Regions from separate parts of the Homo sapiens genome. Here region 2 is linked to region 1. A link means that fine-mapping ties the variant in region 1 to the expression of a gene that starts in the linked region. Tissue or cell type: whole blood. Region 1 holds a variant in brackets; the other region holds the start of a gene. All regions are shown on one strand. Distances are between the middles of the regions.

Region 1 (8,000 bases):
TTGGCTTTAGCCGCTTGGGCAGCGCGGCCAGCCAGCCTCCGGGACGCGCATCCTCGGTCCGGGGCCGGGGCCGGGCGCACCCCGAGTTACGCCGCGGCTCTGCGGCGCGGGACTGGCCGCGAAGGGCGGCGGGATGCACCGAGCGGGCCGGGAGCGGGCACGCACTCACCGAAGTACACGGTCTTGTCGCACTTGGGGCATTTGGAGGCCATGGTCGGTGCGCCCGGTCGGCCCGCGCCCTCCGCCCGTTCTCCTCCGGGCCGCCGCCGCCCGCGCCCAGCCCCGCCTGCCCGGCTGTCCGCGCGCCCATTGGCTCCGCGGCCGGGGCGGGGCCTCGATAACCCGTCCCCCGGGCTGGGGGCCGCCTGGGGGCGCCGCGGGGGCGGGGCGCACCTGCCGGGGGTGGCGGGTGCGGGGCAGCCGGGCCAGGCCTGGCGCCCCCGGGCCCCTCGCGCCGGAGGTGGCGTCTACAGGGGCCCGCCCGGGCGACCGCGGCGCCGCCCGCGCCCCGGCTGTTTCCATGGCGACGTCGGGGCCGCCTGGCCGGGCCGTCCCCGGGGCGGCGGGCAGGGTGCGGGGAGCCTGGCCCTCGGCTCTCGGGGAGCCCTAGTGACTTGGGCCTAGGGGTCCAACACTCCCGGCCCTGGGCGCCCAGGCTGCGCTCCGCCGCGGGAAGGGGTCGCAGGCTCCGGGAGAACCCCACCCCCACCCCGCCGCGCGCGGCGCCTGTCCCGCTTCCCTTTGTTGCTCGGTTTCCATAGCAACAGCCGCGCCGCGGGAGCGGAGTCAGATTCCCGGCGGGCACGGCCCCCAGCCCTGTCCGGGTCTCCATGTCCCGCTCCGCCCCCGCCCGCGCCCCGCCCCAACACTGTCTGTGGTGCTGAAGGCTCCTTGGGTGGAGGGCAGGGCTCAGGAAGGAAGGCGCCGCCACCTCCAGAAACAGCTCGAGAAGCTGCTGGTAGGGGGTGTGGGGAGGTCTGCGTCTGCCTCCCAGGCAGGGAAGGGGCGGCGGGCACCAGCGCCGAGGGATCCGCGCTTAAGGCGTCCACCCCAAGCACTTCCACCCAGGGGGCGGCCGGGGAGGCGGTGAGGAGTTAGGAAGGGAAGGAGGGGAAGGAGTGGGCGTGCCCTCTGTGCCCCGGGCTGGGGCTGACACTCCAGTCCCTTCTCCCGCACCGCCCAGGACCAGCTGCGTGCCTGGGGGCCCAGGGCCTGACCTCGAGGGGTCAGGCGGGAGATTGAGGGGTCATGCCAGTCACCGCACCCCCACACCCCCACTCTGGCCTCCTCCCAACCAGGGCGTGCCTGACCACGCCTCACCACAGTGCCTCCGCCCTAGAGCCCCGTAGAGCCTGGCCCCAGGTGGGGAACCTCCGCACCCACGGGCTTCCTGGTGCTCTGTCCCCATGGGCCCTTCTCTGAGCCTTCTGGCCCCAGCTGAGCGTCGGCCTGGGAGACAGGCAGATCCCAGAAGCCCAGTGATCAGGCCCTATGGGGGCAGCTGACTCTGGACACCCTTCCCCCTGTGTCTTGGAGGCTGTGGGCTGGACACGGAGACCTACCTGTTCCCTCTGCCTGGTGCACCAGGCATGTTTGTGAGCCAACCAGAGGCCCTCGGTGCTCCTGGCTTTCATGGTGGTCCTGGCTGGGCTCTCTGTGGCAGCACCCTCCTCCCTTGCACACACACCCTGCAGCCACTGCCATTTCCATGGTGACAGCAGGCCAGAAACATGCCCCCCGCCCCCCCGCCCGACTGACCAGCCTGACCAGCTCCCCCTCTGCACTTGGGACCTGTGCCAGCCAAGGCAGAAGATGGTGAGGAGGCATCAGTCAGTACCTTTTCTGGGCAGCCCTTCCTCCCTGGCAGGCCCAGGGGTCCCTAGGGGTCCCTCACAGCAGGGCCTTGCCCAGGCTGGATTCATGGGCCCACTGCCAAACCCTCTCCAGCTCCCTGCCCTGTTCTGCCCAGCTTGGGAGCCTGGGGCTAAGCCATTACCCTCCCTGACTTTGCTACCTGTGGGGCTTGCTACCTGTGGGGCTTGCTCTGGAGGACAGGGCTGGCTGAACACAGGGCTCTTCTGGAGGGAGACCACCTGCCCCAAGGTCCCCAGCCCTGCCAGAAGAGTGGATGGGGGTAGAGGCAGGCCCCTCCCAGGGTGGCAGCAAAGGAATGGCATTCGGCACTGGCCAGGTGCCCTGGAGACACACGGAGGGTGGGGTGGGACAAGGAGTGTGCCAGCTGCTGCACTGCCCTCACCCCAGCCGCAGTCCCTGGGCAGCGGCCAGAAGCTCCCTAATGCGACGGGGCTATTCTGGGCCTGGCAGGCAGGGGTCAGGATCAATGGGTGCAGAGCAGTGGCCTTGGTCTCCACCTCTGAGGCTGCGGTGGGTCACAGGCAGGGGCAGTGACACAGTGGGACGGGCCCGAGTGGAGAGGGGGGCACAGGACACGGCGGGTGTGAAGGGAGCTGGCAGGGCTGATGGCTGGGCATGGGGCTGGGTCACACCCCTGGGCTGCAGTGGTCTGGTCCCTTCCGCCATCCTGTGACACTGGCAGATAGCAGGCCCCTGCTACTCAGCTCCACTGCAGGGAAGCCAGGCTGGGCTGAGTGGTGGACAGAGGACCCTAGCAGGGTGGAGCGGAGCTGGCAGGACAGGTCTCCAGGCATGACAGCATGATGGCCTTGCCACCCTGAGATGCCCCTGGCCCTGGGGAGCCGCGGCCCCTGTGGGGTTGCTGGTGCAGAAAGCAGGCTGCTGTCTCATCAGCAGGGAAGGGCCTAACGAGGACATAGCAAAGCTGGGAGACCCCTTCATGGCCTGGGCACCAAGGCCAATGCTCCCCCCAGCCGGTACCCACTCACTTCTAAGCCCAGGTTTAGACCCACAAGCAGCCCAGGCCCCACCCAGCACCGGTGGCCAGAGCTTGGCCCTGTGAGGGCACTGCAGCCTGGGTGTCTGGCCGGGGAGGGTGTCTGGGGTGGGAAAGGGCCCCACATCTCCTCAGGGCCTCCCTGCCCTTGGGATAGAGCCCAGGACCTAGGACACCTCACAGCCCACATGTTGACTCCAGAAAAGGACAGGCCCTGGGGGGTGGAAGAGCTGCTGAGGCCAGAACCCTGCAGCCAGCACTGGGAGGCAAGCCCGAGGCCTGGGGAAGGGAGACAAGGGAGCTGGGGTCTTCACTGAGCTCCAGACCCCCAGGGTTGGAAAAGGCCTCAGAGGGAGCTGTGTCCTTCATGAGGTCAGGGGCCTGATTTCCCAGCCGTCTGATGACGCACTACAGGCAAGTCCTCAGGCTGTGGGGTCACTCGGATGCTGGCTGCAGATTAGAGTTGGCTGGTGGGGGCTGGGGTTGGGTGGGGGGGCGCCACAGCCCAGGGAGGGTGGGTGGGACGTGCACTGCAGCCGAGTCCCTGACACCTAGTCCTGTCACTGCTGGGCCCCAGCACAGGCTCCCACGGAGGCCAGGACGCCCCCTTATCTTTGTCTCCTGGGAGACAGCAGAAGTGGTTTCTATTTTAATTCCGTGGCTGAGATTTCCACATGACAGGGCGCCTGGGTGGGCTGGGGGAGCAAAGGCACAGCTCTGGGGAGAGACAGAGGAGCTACTCTCCCTGAGCGAGGCCTGGGCGGACCCCTCCTGGCCGGCTGAGGTAGCACGGCCAGGGGGGTGGTCTGGAGCCAGGCTATCCACCGGACCCCTCCTTCTGGTGGCCCGGCCTGTACCTGTCCCCCGGCCTGCAAGTCCTGTCCCCGGCCGGAGGATGGGCCAAGCAGGATTTCTGAGAATGTGCTTGCAGAAATCTAAGCAGATTCTCACTGTGGAGACTGCACACCTGCTTGGGGGCCAGAGCTCTGGGCAGAAACCCTCAGGCGGCTGGGGCCAGGCTCTACATGGCCAGGAGGTTGGGCCTCTGGCTGGAGCACTCCAAGGCCTCGCTGGCCCAGCTGCACTGGCTGCCCTGGTGGGAAGCCACAGGGTCTTCGGCAGGGCCAGCTCTGCCTGCCGGGAGGCAGTCCCCGGCCCACCGCTGCCGCAGACACAGACGCACAGACGGTTTCAGCACAGCTCTGCTGGGGAAGGGGGTTGGGCCCTGCAACCGCTTGCTGCCCCCTGGGGAGGGCAGAGGGCACCG[C/T]GCCAGGCCCCAGCAGGGGAAGGTCTGTGGGCAGGTGGGAGAGCAACAGAGCCCAGAGGCTGGGGTGGCTGTCCTGGCTGAGGTGGCCTCCAGGGGCCTCCAGCTCCACGGCAGAGCCACAGCCTAGGGCCGCCCGATGGGGGTGGGGGGCCCAGGGCCTGAGTCAGGGAGAGGGACTGGGAACAAAAGACACAGGGAAGGACCGGTTGGTTTTTTTCCTTTTTATAAGATTTTTTTTCTTTGTTTTTGTTTAATATGAAAATTACTTGAAAAGACAAGGGCCAACCCCGCCAGGCAGCTCGGCCGGCCGCGGCCGCACGATCCTAACATTCCAGGTGTAAGTTACAGAGCTCAAGTTCATCTACAAAAAAAGTAATAAAAATAAAATTTAAAATGGCACCTTCAACAGAACACAACAAAACCTTAGGGCCCGGCCTCCGGGCAAAAGGCCCCGCAGCACAGGGGCACGGGGTGGCCCCTCATCTCCGCTCCAGCCAAAAAGTAAACACAAAGCTAAAAACGACAACTCCTCGGCATTCTCGGAATAAGTTAGCCGCGCTTCTTCCTCTCCTCCCCCAGTGTCCGCCAAGGAGCGCGTTTCTCTGCAGGTGAGGGCGGGAGGTGGGGCACTACCAAACTGAGGGGCGGGCGGCGGGCTGGCTGGGAAGGGGCCGTGTGGGCGGGCGAGGGGCGGGGGGCGGCCGCAGGTGGGGGCGGCCCCTAGTCCTCGATGACGATGGGCTCGTCGTTGACGGGCGCAGGTGGCGGTGGCCGCGGCGGCAGGGCCTGGCTCTGGCGCAGGGCGATGGGCTTGTAGGGCCGGCGGGCAGCACGCTTGGTTTCCGAGGATGAGAGCAGCTTGCGGATCTTCCTGTGGGCAGAGGTGGTGGTGAGGGCCGGGACGCTGTGCGGAGCCCTCCCGCCTGCCCTGGGAAGGCCCCACCTGGTCTCCTCTGTGGCCATGTAGAACACGTCATCCGGGGCGTCGATCCAGTTCATCCGCCGCCGCTTGACTGGGGGCAGGGAGCCCCCCCGGATCAGGCGCACTTTGGTGGGGTAGGACTTCCCGTTGAGCAGGAGGTTCCGGCTTGGTCCCTGCAGAGGGGGTGCACTTCCTGGGCAGCCAGCCAAGGGCCAGCTCCACCTCAACCTGCAGGGCTCCCGCTGGGAGGTGCTGTGCCTGGCCAACCCCCCACCACCCCAGTGAGTTACACGGACCCCCAGCCTGGCCCAGGGCAGCCCTGAGGGCTGGTCGGCCGCACACCGCTGGGCCTGGCACAGGGGCCATGGCCCCCACATGCTGCAGCCCCTCTGGTCTTGCCAGGCCTCCTGGAAGCTTCCACGTGGCACCTGGCAGGGCTGGCCAGGCCTCTTCCCAACACCCCAGAGAGCTCATGGGTGAGCGCACCGTACCCCATCATGGGTTGTTCCTCTTACCATGTGCCTGGCCTGTCCGTGGTTTGCCAGACCTGATGAGAAATGGAGGAGAGAAATGAGGCCCCGAGAGAGCGCGTCCTGCACTCCCACCGCCCACCACGGCCTCAGCCACCTTGGGACAATGGGCCGGGGCCATCTGCCAACCAAGCCACAGCCCACACCCAGGATGGGCCTGGGGGACGTGGGGCCTCGCATCCCCGGGTCCTGGGCCGCCTGGTGGCCCCACAGCTCTCTGGCCAGCAAGAGACACATTGGCTTGGGCTCCAGGCAGGAGGCCAGGAGCCTTGGACCCGACAGTCACCTCCCTGCACAGGGGCCGGGGCTGTCCACCCACTTGCCTGCCGTGCCGAGACAAGCAAAGCCTCGCAAGGCTGTCAGTCCAGCAGCGGCACAAGCCCCTCTGCAGGGCAGCCACGCTGTGGCCGGCACTGCCCCACCAGGAGGCCGGGCTTTTTCCTAAGGCTCTGAGAGAGCCGCCAGCCCCGGCCAGAAACAGGTCACCACCCACTGCCCTGGCTGGGCCCCAGCCACCCTGGCATGTGCTTGGGGATGGGGTGCCAGAGGCCTCTGACTTCCCACAGTGCAGGGTGAGGAGCCCAAGGGGCACTGCGGGAGTTGGGCCAAGAAGCGGGGTCCATGCTCCTGGTCACCCCCAGCTGGGCCCAGGACCGCCGCTGCCCTCCCCCACTCACTGCCCTTCCCCACTGCCCTGTGTGTAGGTGTGGGCGTGTGCATGTGGGAGCTGGTCCCAGGATGGCTCGGCTCCCAGCAGGACCAGCTCAGAGAGGACAGGATGTCATACTCAACTCAGTCAGGTGCCAGGGCCCAGGGGCATCGGAGCAACCTGCCAGCTCCAGAAACGCTGCTTAGCTGAGGCCCATCCCTTAAGGAACAGAAGCAGCCTGTCCAGCCCCTCCCCACCTGCAGTTGCCTCCTAACTTGGGGCACTCCCCTGGGGGCCAACTGGGGCCCTGGAGCCCTGGGTCAGCCTTTCCCTGCCAGTTTGCTTAGCTCTGCCGGGCAGGGTCAGGTGGGGGCCCAGGTGCCTGATCTGCGGCGCTCCCAAGCAGGAACAGCCATACCTCAGGGCACCTGCCACAAGCCAAGGCCCAGCGCCCAGGGCTGGCCAGTAGCACAAAAACTACTTACCCAGGTAAGTGCCTACCAGAGCGGTGGACAGCAGAGGGAAGAAACACATGCTTTAGGTTAGTGAGCCACACGCAGCCATCTGCAGGCCCCGCAGGTGGGGACAGCGCAACAGGCTGCACGGGCAAATGGCCGGGTTAGAGCGCTGGGGCCCCGTGCTGTGGGCAGGCAGGGCCCTCACTCGAGCTCAGCTCATGCCTACCCAGGCTGGACAGAGACCCCACCTCGTGTGCGCCAGTGCCCCCGGGAGCCGTCTTCACCCAGCTGGCCCCTCTCCAGCGCCCAGGTCCTGGCCGCTACACGTCAGGACAGGCGCTTCCTCTGTGGCTGACCCCTCTGAGCCCAGGGCCCCGCCCAGCCAGGCGGCAAGGGGTGATGCTCCCTCACAAGCACTGCATGGCTGGGACTCACGTGTGAGGTGTGGAAAATTCAGTGGGAACAAATAAGCTTTTATGTAACTTGCTGGTTAACCGCTTTTTACAAAACAAAACAAAAAGCTCGAAGATGCCTGCTGACAAGGACTCCCTCCTGTTTCTACCAGCTCTTATGGGGCTGTTCCTGGGACGCCCTGCCATTAGGAACAGACAAGTAAAGCCAGCCCAGAGTGGGCTGGCCCTGGGCCCAGGACTAGGCAATGGGGGCAGCCCCAATACCAGATGGCTGGGAGGGTGCCCCAGGAAAGGAGGGCTGGGGCTGGGGCCGAGACACAGACACCGCCAAGGGATGTCGGGAGGAAGCTGCAAGGACAGGCCAGGGGTGCGTGTCCAGACAGGTGGAGATGGGGGGCCCGGCACCCGATCTCAGGCCCACCCTGCGCTGCAGCCGGCGTGCTGACCCCACAGGACGTGCCTGCCAGGACACCCAGCAGCCTCGAGAGAATGCCCCAAGGGGACAGGGTTGGCTGGGCTGGGCAGCCACTACCCATATCCACCTCCAGGTCGCCAAACCGGCCCTGCTGCCCTGGCCAGCACCGTCAGTGAAAGCCGCCTGGCGAAGGGGCTCCAGGCACATCCACACTGGCAGGCCCAGCACTTGCACACCCGGGCCCCACACACCTGGCCTCCTCATGCTAGGCTTGGTCCTATCTGCTCTTCCCCAAGGGGCCTGGGGTCCCGCAGCCCCTGCTCCAAGCAACCGGCACAGAGCACCTGAGCCAGTCCTCCGACAGAAGGCACCCATGTGTACAAGCTCAGTTGCCCACGGCCCACACAGACACCCCCGACCACCCTCCCCACTGTCCCGCCTGGCAGGCGCACGGAAGGATTGCAGGCACAGCAC
Region 2 (8,000 bases), 51 kb after region 1:
ATTTTTTTTTTTTGATACGGAGTCTCACTCTGTCACCCAGCCTCAACTTTTATTAAAATTAAAACAAAAAGGCCGGGCATGAGCTCACGCCTGTAATCCCAGCACTTTCGGAGGCCGAAGCGGGTGGATCACTTGAGGTCAGGAGTTCCAGACCAGCCTGACCAACATGGAGAAACGCCGTCTCTACTAAAAATGTAAAACTTAACCAGGCCTGGTGGCGCCTGGCTAGTCCCAGCTACTTGGGAGGCTGAGGCAGGAAATCGCTTGGGCCGGGGAGGCGGAGGTTGCAGTGAGCCGAAATCGCGCCTCTGCACTCCAGCTTGGGCCACAGAGCAAGACTCCATCTCAAAAAAAAAAAAAAAAAAAAAATTAAACAAAAAAAATCCAAAAGATGGGGTGTTAACCTCTTGCAATGAAAAACAGAAACACCCAAGGCAAAATGGTAATGGCCTGTCCACTGAAAAGCAGAAGCCCCACATGAGCAAGCTGCAGGCGGCTGGCAGGCACCGATTCCTGCTGTCCTGTTTTGGATGCTATCTAACATCTTCATGTTCAACCCAGAGAAGAAACATCCCGCCGTTGCCCTGGGGCCCTCTCATCCCACAGCAGGTTTCAAGCCTTCCCCAGCCCTCGGGATGGACAACCCTTGAGAAGCAGAGGTCAGGGAACCCTGACCCCGCCACCCTTGCCCAGGCCATCCGCTGCCCTCACAGGCACAGACAGAAGGCCTCTGTCCGTGGCCAGGGCACTCCATGGGGAAGAAACAGGCCCTGTTCCCTCCCTGCTCACCACTTCACCCAGCTCAGCTGGCACAAAAATACTGCCACCACACCTTCACCCTGCCTAGCCCAACCTGGCAGGGCCTCGGAGTAGCCTGCCAGCTAAAATACGGGTTGCCCAGATAACTGTGAATGTCAGATAAGAATCTTCTGGGACAAGTATGTCCCATGCCATATTTGGGACATACTTACACTAATAAATTTCTGTTTATCTGAAACTCAAATTTGCCTGGGCGTCCTGTACTTTTCTTAACTAAATTTGGTGCCTCTACACACAAGGTCCCTGGGGTGGGGGGGCACAGGAGCAAGCCCCTTCCCAGGCTGGGTCCCTGCCGGCATCTCCCACAGGCCAGGACTGGCCACCCAGATGGAGCCCGTGCCAGGCAGCCGGCGACAGACGGACAAAGGCTGCTCAGGAGACACTGCACACCTTCCTCTTTCTTGTCTGGGGGCTCAAGAATCCAGACGCCCACCTCCCCGAGCGAGCACCAAGACAGGAAGCCAACCTGCAATGCCCAGCCCACTGCGACCACAGGGCTCTGCCGGGGTCCTGCCGGAACCCAGGGTTCCGGTCCAGAAGCCAGGGATAAATGCCGCTTCTCCTATAGGGACAGTCAGAGTAGAGAGGGGGAGGCCTACAGTCTCACCTGCAGGGAGAGGAAGTCCTCGGGGCGGGCACGTGGGGGGCCTGACAGCTCCGAGCACACCCGGCCACAGTGACCACGGACTGCACACGCAGAAGCAGTCTGGATCCCACGCGTGGCTGTGCTGCCAGCAGACAGCACCCAACCTCCCATGCTCCTCATCACAGGAAAAGAGACCAGCAGCATCTCTGCCAGGCATGGTGGGGCCCCTCCGCCACAGCCTAGGAGTCCAGGCCACCCACCCTCACAGCACTGGAGTGCGTGGGTCAGTGAGGCCCTGGGACGGGCCTGCGGGCACAGGGGGACAGAGGGTTCGGGGAGGGCGGCGCAGCCCCACGAAGGGCTCCTCCCAAGCCTGTGTGGGGCCCAGGGGAGCTGCACCTCCGGGATGGGACAAGGCAGGGTCCTGGCTTTCATCAGCCACAGCACAGCTGCCACAGGGCACAAAAGGACGGCTGAGAGACGAGGTCCTCACCCACACCATGGGGAAACCGAGGCATGGGAAGGTTGGAGGGGGGGCAGCCAGGCTGGCGCCAAGATCACAGGCAGGCAGGCCTGAAGGCCGAGCAATGCAGCCACTAGGAAGGCATGAGTTGGGGTCGGGGTGTCCCCAGCCCTAGAGCCCAAAGCTGCCACCACTCCCCACCCCCAACATGGGTGGGGGCAGGGAGAGCTCTTCTTGGGACCAATCCCAAAACCATGCGCAGTGGGCCCGGCTGGAGCCCAGGCAGCAGGCATCCTCTCTGCCAGGGTGAGAAACTGGGCCCTCATGTCAGGCTGGAAGGGGGGTCTCCAGGTGGGGAGAAAGAACAGGAAGGAACAGGCCCCTCCCTCGAGGGACCCCGCACCCAGGCTGCTCCCTGAGCGTGGGGTGGGCTCAGCGCACCTGGGTCCACACAGGGACCTGGCAAAGCTGTATGAGGCTGTGGGAGGGGCTGCCGCTGGATGGGGTACAGGCCCACCGCCCCTCTGAGAGGACAGGGGAGGCCCAGAGCTGCTGATGCGGACTGACCGCCCATCTCACAGACGGGATGTAGGGGGCTCCCACCGTCCCCAAGGTCACAGGACTGGCCGGCCAGACCACACGGCGTCCAAGGCAGCAGAAGCCACGCTCGAGAGACACAGAGTGTTCTGGGCACTCGGGGTCAGGGGCATGGGGATCAAGCCAGAGCGGGAGTGACCCCAGCTCCCTCCAGCAGCGCAGGCTGCAGGTGGGAAAGGTAATGAGCACCTGCCCGAGAGGGTCACAGGCAGGGAGGGGTCTCAGAGTCCTGGGGAGGGAGGCGCTGATGGAATGATGGAATGCACACGACCCCCCACCTTCCTGTGAAAGACCCCACGGAGTCCCAGGCACACGAAGGAGGGCAAGGCTCAAAGCTGCAGGCCCGGGGGGCCCGAGCAACAGGAGGCTGGGCCCACGGAGGAAGCCCCTGCCCAGGAGGCCCTCCGGCCTCTCCCCAACCCTTGCAAAGCGCCTCCCGAATGGGCTGAGGTGAGCGAGAGGCAGGGAAAAGTTTGGGGGGACTTAGAGGCGTGCTCGGGATGCTCGCTCCCTGCTGAAGACCCCCTGAGGGATCCCTGCTGGGGGAAGCCCCGGGGCCAGGCTGCAGGAGGGCTCTAGGGAGGAACGTGGCCCCTCACCGGGGCTCCCCATCCCCAGAGGGGATGCACCGGAGTCCCAGCACAGGGCCGCGGGCCGGGGGAGACCCCACAGCCCCAAAACTCCTGCTCCCAGACCGGCAGCCGGCGCCTCCCAAGGCCACGTGCTCCCGCTGGGGGCTCCCGGCCCCGGACCCCCGGATGTCCCGCAGGCCCCGCGCCCCCCCGCCACCCCCGCGGCCGCCCCCTCGGCCCCAACAGGTGGGCCGCCCCCCACCCCCGGGCCGCCGAGCCCCGCCCGCCCCCGATGGGGCCGACCCGCGGGGCCATTTTGGGTTGGGGTGAGCACGGCGGGGGGCGGTTCGGGAAGGAGCCGGGGGCCGCGAGGGCGGGCGGGGGGCGCGGGGCCTGCGGGGCAGAGGGGCGGGGGAGGCGGCAGCGGCGGCGGGTGGGGGCTGCGGGCGGGTCGGGGCCGGGCATAAAGGCGGTGCGGCCTTACCTCCGACCCTGTACATGTTGGCGGCCATGTCCGGGCCGGCGGCGGCGGAGGGGCCCGGGGCGGGCGCGGCGCTCGGCGCGGGCGGCCGGGAAAATGGAGGCGCGATGGCGGGGGCGGGGGGCGCCGCAGGCGTTTAAAGGGGCCGCGCTGCTGCCGCCGCCGCCGCCGCCGCCGCCGCCGAGGCCGCCGAGGCCGCGCAGGGACGGGAGGGCCGCGGCGCGGGCGGGAGAGGAAGAGGAGGAGCGGCCGCGGGCGGCGGGGAGGGGCCTCGGGCGCCGCCGCCCACCGCACGGGCCGTTACCGACCCCGCGCCGCCCGCGGCCCGCGCGCCCCTTCCCGGACAGTTCCTCTCGGCGCCCCCGAGTCCTCCCCGCGCGCCGCTTCCCGGGTGGGCCCTTCCACCAGAACCCCCTGGTAGATCCTCCCCTGGTGCCCTGGGGGTAGAGGGGAGATCCTCCACAAGGGCCATTTCCCTGGTGATCCCTCCCTGTGCCCCACAGGTGAGTCCTGCCGTAGCTCTCCAGGGGTTCCTCCTGATGCTGGGGTCCTCCGGCATTCCTCCCTGAGCCCCCCAAGGGCCCTGAAGCTCAGCGGCCCAGCCCTGGCCTCGGGGTCCCCACCCCACACCTCCCTTCCAGGCCTAACCTTTGCCCCCGACACCAGGCAGGGCGTGTCCTTGGCCTTCGCCGCCCAGCCCGCGTGGCATCTCTGGACAGGTGGTCGTGCGCGCCTTGGTGTGGGCAGGCTCCGTAGCCGGCAAAGCCTCCCTGAACCGTGACCTGGTGAGAAGGCCGCAGAGGAGGTGCCTGTGCCCAGAGGCCACCTCCAAAGACCCCACCTGAGGCTGGAACCCAGCGCCTGCTGACCCCGCCAGCCCCAACAGGGCTGGAGTCCAGGAGCGGCCGTGCTCTTTCCGCAGTGAGGCAGCTGCCTTCTCTTCCCACCACCTGTCAGGATGCCTTCCCGTGTGTGCTTGTGCACAGGTCTAAGGAGAGGAGAGTCCAGTGAGTGACCCAGACGCCCCAGCCAGGAAGAGCATGAGGTGCGAAGGGGGCTTCCCAGATGGAGAGAAACAGATGGTCCCAGAGTGGCTTGGAGACAGGTGCAACATCAGTGTTGGGGGAGGTGAGCAAAAGGAGCTGTCTCGGGGTTCCAGGCTGCTGATGTGAGCAGCACCGTGGGTCTCTGTCCTGCCTGCTCAGATGCTGGAGGGAGCTGACATCTACTTGGGACATCCCTCTCTGTAGGACATGGAGCGGAGCGTTCAGGGCTATCAGGAGGGAGCCCCGTGGCCACGGTGCAAGATCTAGGCAGGCGGGACAGACATGGTCAGGATGCTGGGGACACAGCATGGGGAATCCAGCACACAGGACACCATCCAGGTGGGTAGGAAACAGCATGTGCTGGGAGGAAAGCCAGGTGGGGGTCCCAAGGAGAGCGGTGGCCACAATGTCATGGCTGCAGAGCAGACCAGTAAGGAAAGCCCCACCAGGGTTAGCACAGGGCCAGGAACCCGAGCTGCAGGGCGGTGCTGTCTCTGGGGAGAGAGGGCTATGGGTCCCAGGACACATCCTGCGGGCTGGGCTGCAGGGAACAGGAGCTGGCTTGCTGGTGATTGGGAGGGAAGAGCAGCCAGCCAGCGGCCAGGTGCAGGAGAGGGGCAATGACAGACAGGCAGCGTCTCTCCAGAAGGAAGGTGGGGCTGCTGGCCTCCCCTGTCCTACAGCCCCAGCCTACCTCTGTCTCCTCAGCAGGAAAGCAAAGCTGCAGCCTGAGATCTCCTTCCACCAACTCCTGGCATGGCCAGAAAGTTAGCCAGAAACACCAGAAAGTGCCAGGCAGCTAGGAAGCATGGGGAGAGCCCCCTGAAGCTGCGTGTGTAGTGCCTGCTTCCGCTGCCATCCCAGAAATGGACGAGCTTCACCCTGAGAACCCAGCCACACCACTGGGACACATCCTGACAGTGACATGCACACTCTTCCCTGGCCCCAGCCTGGAGAGGAGCCTCCTGAAGACACCAGCCTTTGCTCCTTCTCCCAGTGGGAGTGGAGAGAACTGACTGCTGGAGTGGAGACAGTCAAGGCTGTCCTTCTGAGGGAGCACAGCACAGGGTCTGGTGTCCCAGGGAGGCAATCTGAAATTCAAGCCAGGCCTCCCCAGCGGAGAGGACACACCCCTCACCATGCAGAGTGACGTTTAGTAAACTCTCAAAAGAGAGCACAGAGCCCCACTCCTCCAGCCGACCCATACTCTGCCTCCCCACTCCAGACCAGTGAACAAGGTGGATTGCCCTTAAGCCAGCTCAGAGGCAAAGTCCAAAGACCTCAGGTGAGTCAAACAATAAAAACAAAGAATTAAGAAGAATCCAGCTGGGTGCGGTGGCTCACGCCTGTAATCCCAGCACTTTGGGAGGCTGAGGCGGGAGGATCACGAGCAGGAGGTCGAGACCATCCTGGCTAACACGGTGAAACCCCGTCTCTACTAAAAATAGAAAAAATTAGCTGGGCGTGGTGGCGGGCGCCTGTAGTCCCAGCTACTCCGGAGGCTGAGGCAGAAGAATGGCGTGAACCCAGGAAGCGGAGCTTGCAGTGAGCCGAGATCATGCCACTGCACTCCAGCCTGGGCGACAGAGCGAGACTCCGTCTCCAAAAAAAAAAAAAAAAAAAAAATCCATCCACTCCATCCACTTAGTAGCAGAGCGAATAGACATTCAGGAAAGAGCTTTCACGTCAGAAAGCACTACAGAAGTAGTGGCATATCCCCGGAGGCTGAGGTGGGAGCATTGCTGAGAGGTGGCACGTGACCACATCCATGTCATTCAACAACAGAAAAACAAGTCATCGAGGGTGTGAGGGGCCGGTGAGAAACCCAGTATGGAAGAAAACACAACTGGGCTGAGCGTGGTGGCTCACGCCTGTAATCCCAGCACTTTGGGAGGCCAAGGCAGGAGGATCACCTGAGGTCAGGAGTTCGAGACCAGCCTGGTCAACATAGTGAAACCTCATCTCTACTAAAAATACAAAAAAATTAACTGGGTGTGGTAGCGCGTGCCTGTAGTCCCAGCTACTCCGGAGGCTGAGGCAGGAGAATTGCATGAACCCAGGAGCCGAGACCACACCACTGCACTCCAGCCTGGGGGCGGCACAGTGAGACTCCGTCTCAAAGAAACAAAAATAAAAAATAAATAAATAAATAAATAAATAAATAAGAAAACGCAACCAAAGAAACAGAAGAGGACTCCACAGGACTTCTTTCAGAGCTTCATAGCAGCATGAATTCAACAATCAGGAATTCAAATGCTTGACGACAAAACAGCAGGATGGGAGGAAGAGTTAAGAGCCAAGCAAACCGGAAGCACCAAAATCGCACCGTGGCTGGATCAAGTCATAAACAGCAAAGGGCAGAATATCAAGTTACTTGGAGATGAAAGGCTTGAGATAATTTCAGAGCAAGACAAAGTGATTAACACAATAATTTACTCATTGATTATTTGTTAAACATCTACTTCAAGCTACAGGCCACTCTAGGCCTTGGAGGGTAAGGAAACAGCACCTTTGCCCTCAGAGGGTTTGCAATCTAGCAGGGAGGGGAACATAATAAAGTGTATAAAACCAGGGCTCTGGCTCTGAAGTTCCAGCACTTTGGGCAGGTCACTTGAACCCAGGAGTTTGAGACCAGCCTGGGCAACATAGTGAAAACCCATCTCTACTGAAAAATATAAAAATTAGCGGGGCGTGGTGGTGCATGCCTGTAGTCCCTGCTACTTGAGAGGCTGAGGCAGGAGGATAGCTTAGGCCTGAGAGGCATAGTTCGCAGTGAGCCGAGATAGCACCTCTGCACTGCGGCGTGGGTGGCAGAGCAAGACCCTGTCTAACAACAACAACAAAAACTGATCTTAAGTCCAGCCAGTAAAGATGTAAATCAAAACAAAGACTTTCAGTGGGTCAAATACTGGCGGTGAGCCTTGATCTTCTGGTAAGAAATGCCCTGCCAGGGGATATGGAAATGTCAGTGCCAGTTCCTCACCATTCACAGGCAGAAGTCAGCCGGTGCCGCCTCAGCCGAACCGTGCTTTGCTGCTGTAAACCAAACACACTCATCTCTTGATGTTTTTGTAATTTCTAAAAATAATCGTAGAAGACTTTTTTTTTTTTTTTTTTGGAGACAGGGTCTCACTCTGTCACCCAGGCTCAAGTGCAGTGGGCCTATCTCGGCTCACTGCAGCCTCGACTTCCTGAGCTCAAGCGATCCTCCCACCTCAGCCTCCCAAGTAGCTGGGACTACAGGAGAGCACCACCACGCCCGGCTGATTTTTGTATCTTCAGTATGGATGGAGCTTCCCTTTGTTGCCCAGGCTGTTCTCCAACTCCTGAGCTCAAGCGATCTGCCTGCCTTGGCTTCCCAAAGTGCCGGGATTACAGGCCTGAGCCACGGCGCCCGGCCATCGTAAGGAGACTTTTAAACTTGAGGTGAAGAAGC

Evidence for each region. PIP is the estimated chance that this variant, and not a neighbour inherited with it, causes the effect.
Region 2: it holds the start of MTA1, and the variant in region 1 is fine-mapped to the expression of MTA1 in whole blood (TOPMed, PIP 0.94).

Annotation. Positions count from the first base shown.
Region 1 is chr14:105,467,075-105,475,074 of GRCh38, reverse strand. MTA1 (metastasis associated 1) reads right to left here. Exons shown (of 21, transcript NM_004689.4): 19 at 5,577-5,608; 20 at 5,083-5,234; 21 at 4,346-5,010. The coding sequence ends at 4,860. It overlaps CRIP2 (cysteine rich protein 2), which reads right to left and starts at 254. Exons shown (of 8, transcript NM_001312.4): 1 at 170-254. The coding sequence starts at 212. RefSeq lists silencers at 232-341, 522-591, 862-1,011, 1,102-1,191, 1,202-1,251 and enhancers at 1,280-1,812, 3,368-4,231. The variant C/T (reference allele first, on the strand shown) is at 4,140.
Region 2 is chr14:105,415,585-105,423,584 of GRCh38, reverse strand. MTA1 (metastasis associated 1) reads right to left here and starts at 3,758. Exons shown (of 21, transcript NM_004689.4): 1 at 3,522-3,758. The coding sequence starts at 3,549. It overlaps MTA1-DT (MTA1 divergent transcript), which reads left to right and starts at 3,846. Exons shown (of 2, transcript NR_125385.1): 1 at 3,846-4,563; 2 at 5,276-6,004. RefSeq lists enhancers at 876-1,545, 1,546-2,213, 4,892-5,561 and silencers at 3,665-3,924, 4,015-4,064, 4,095-4,194.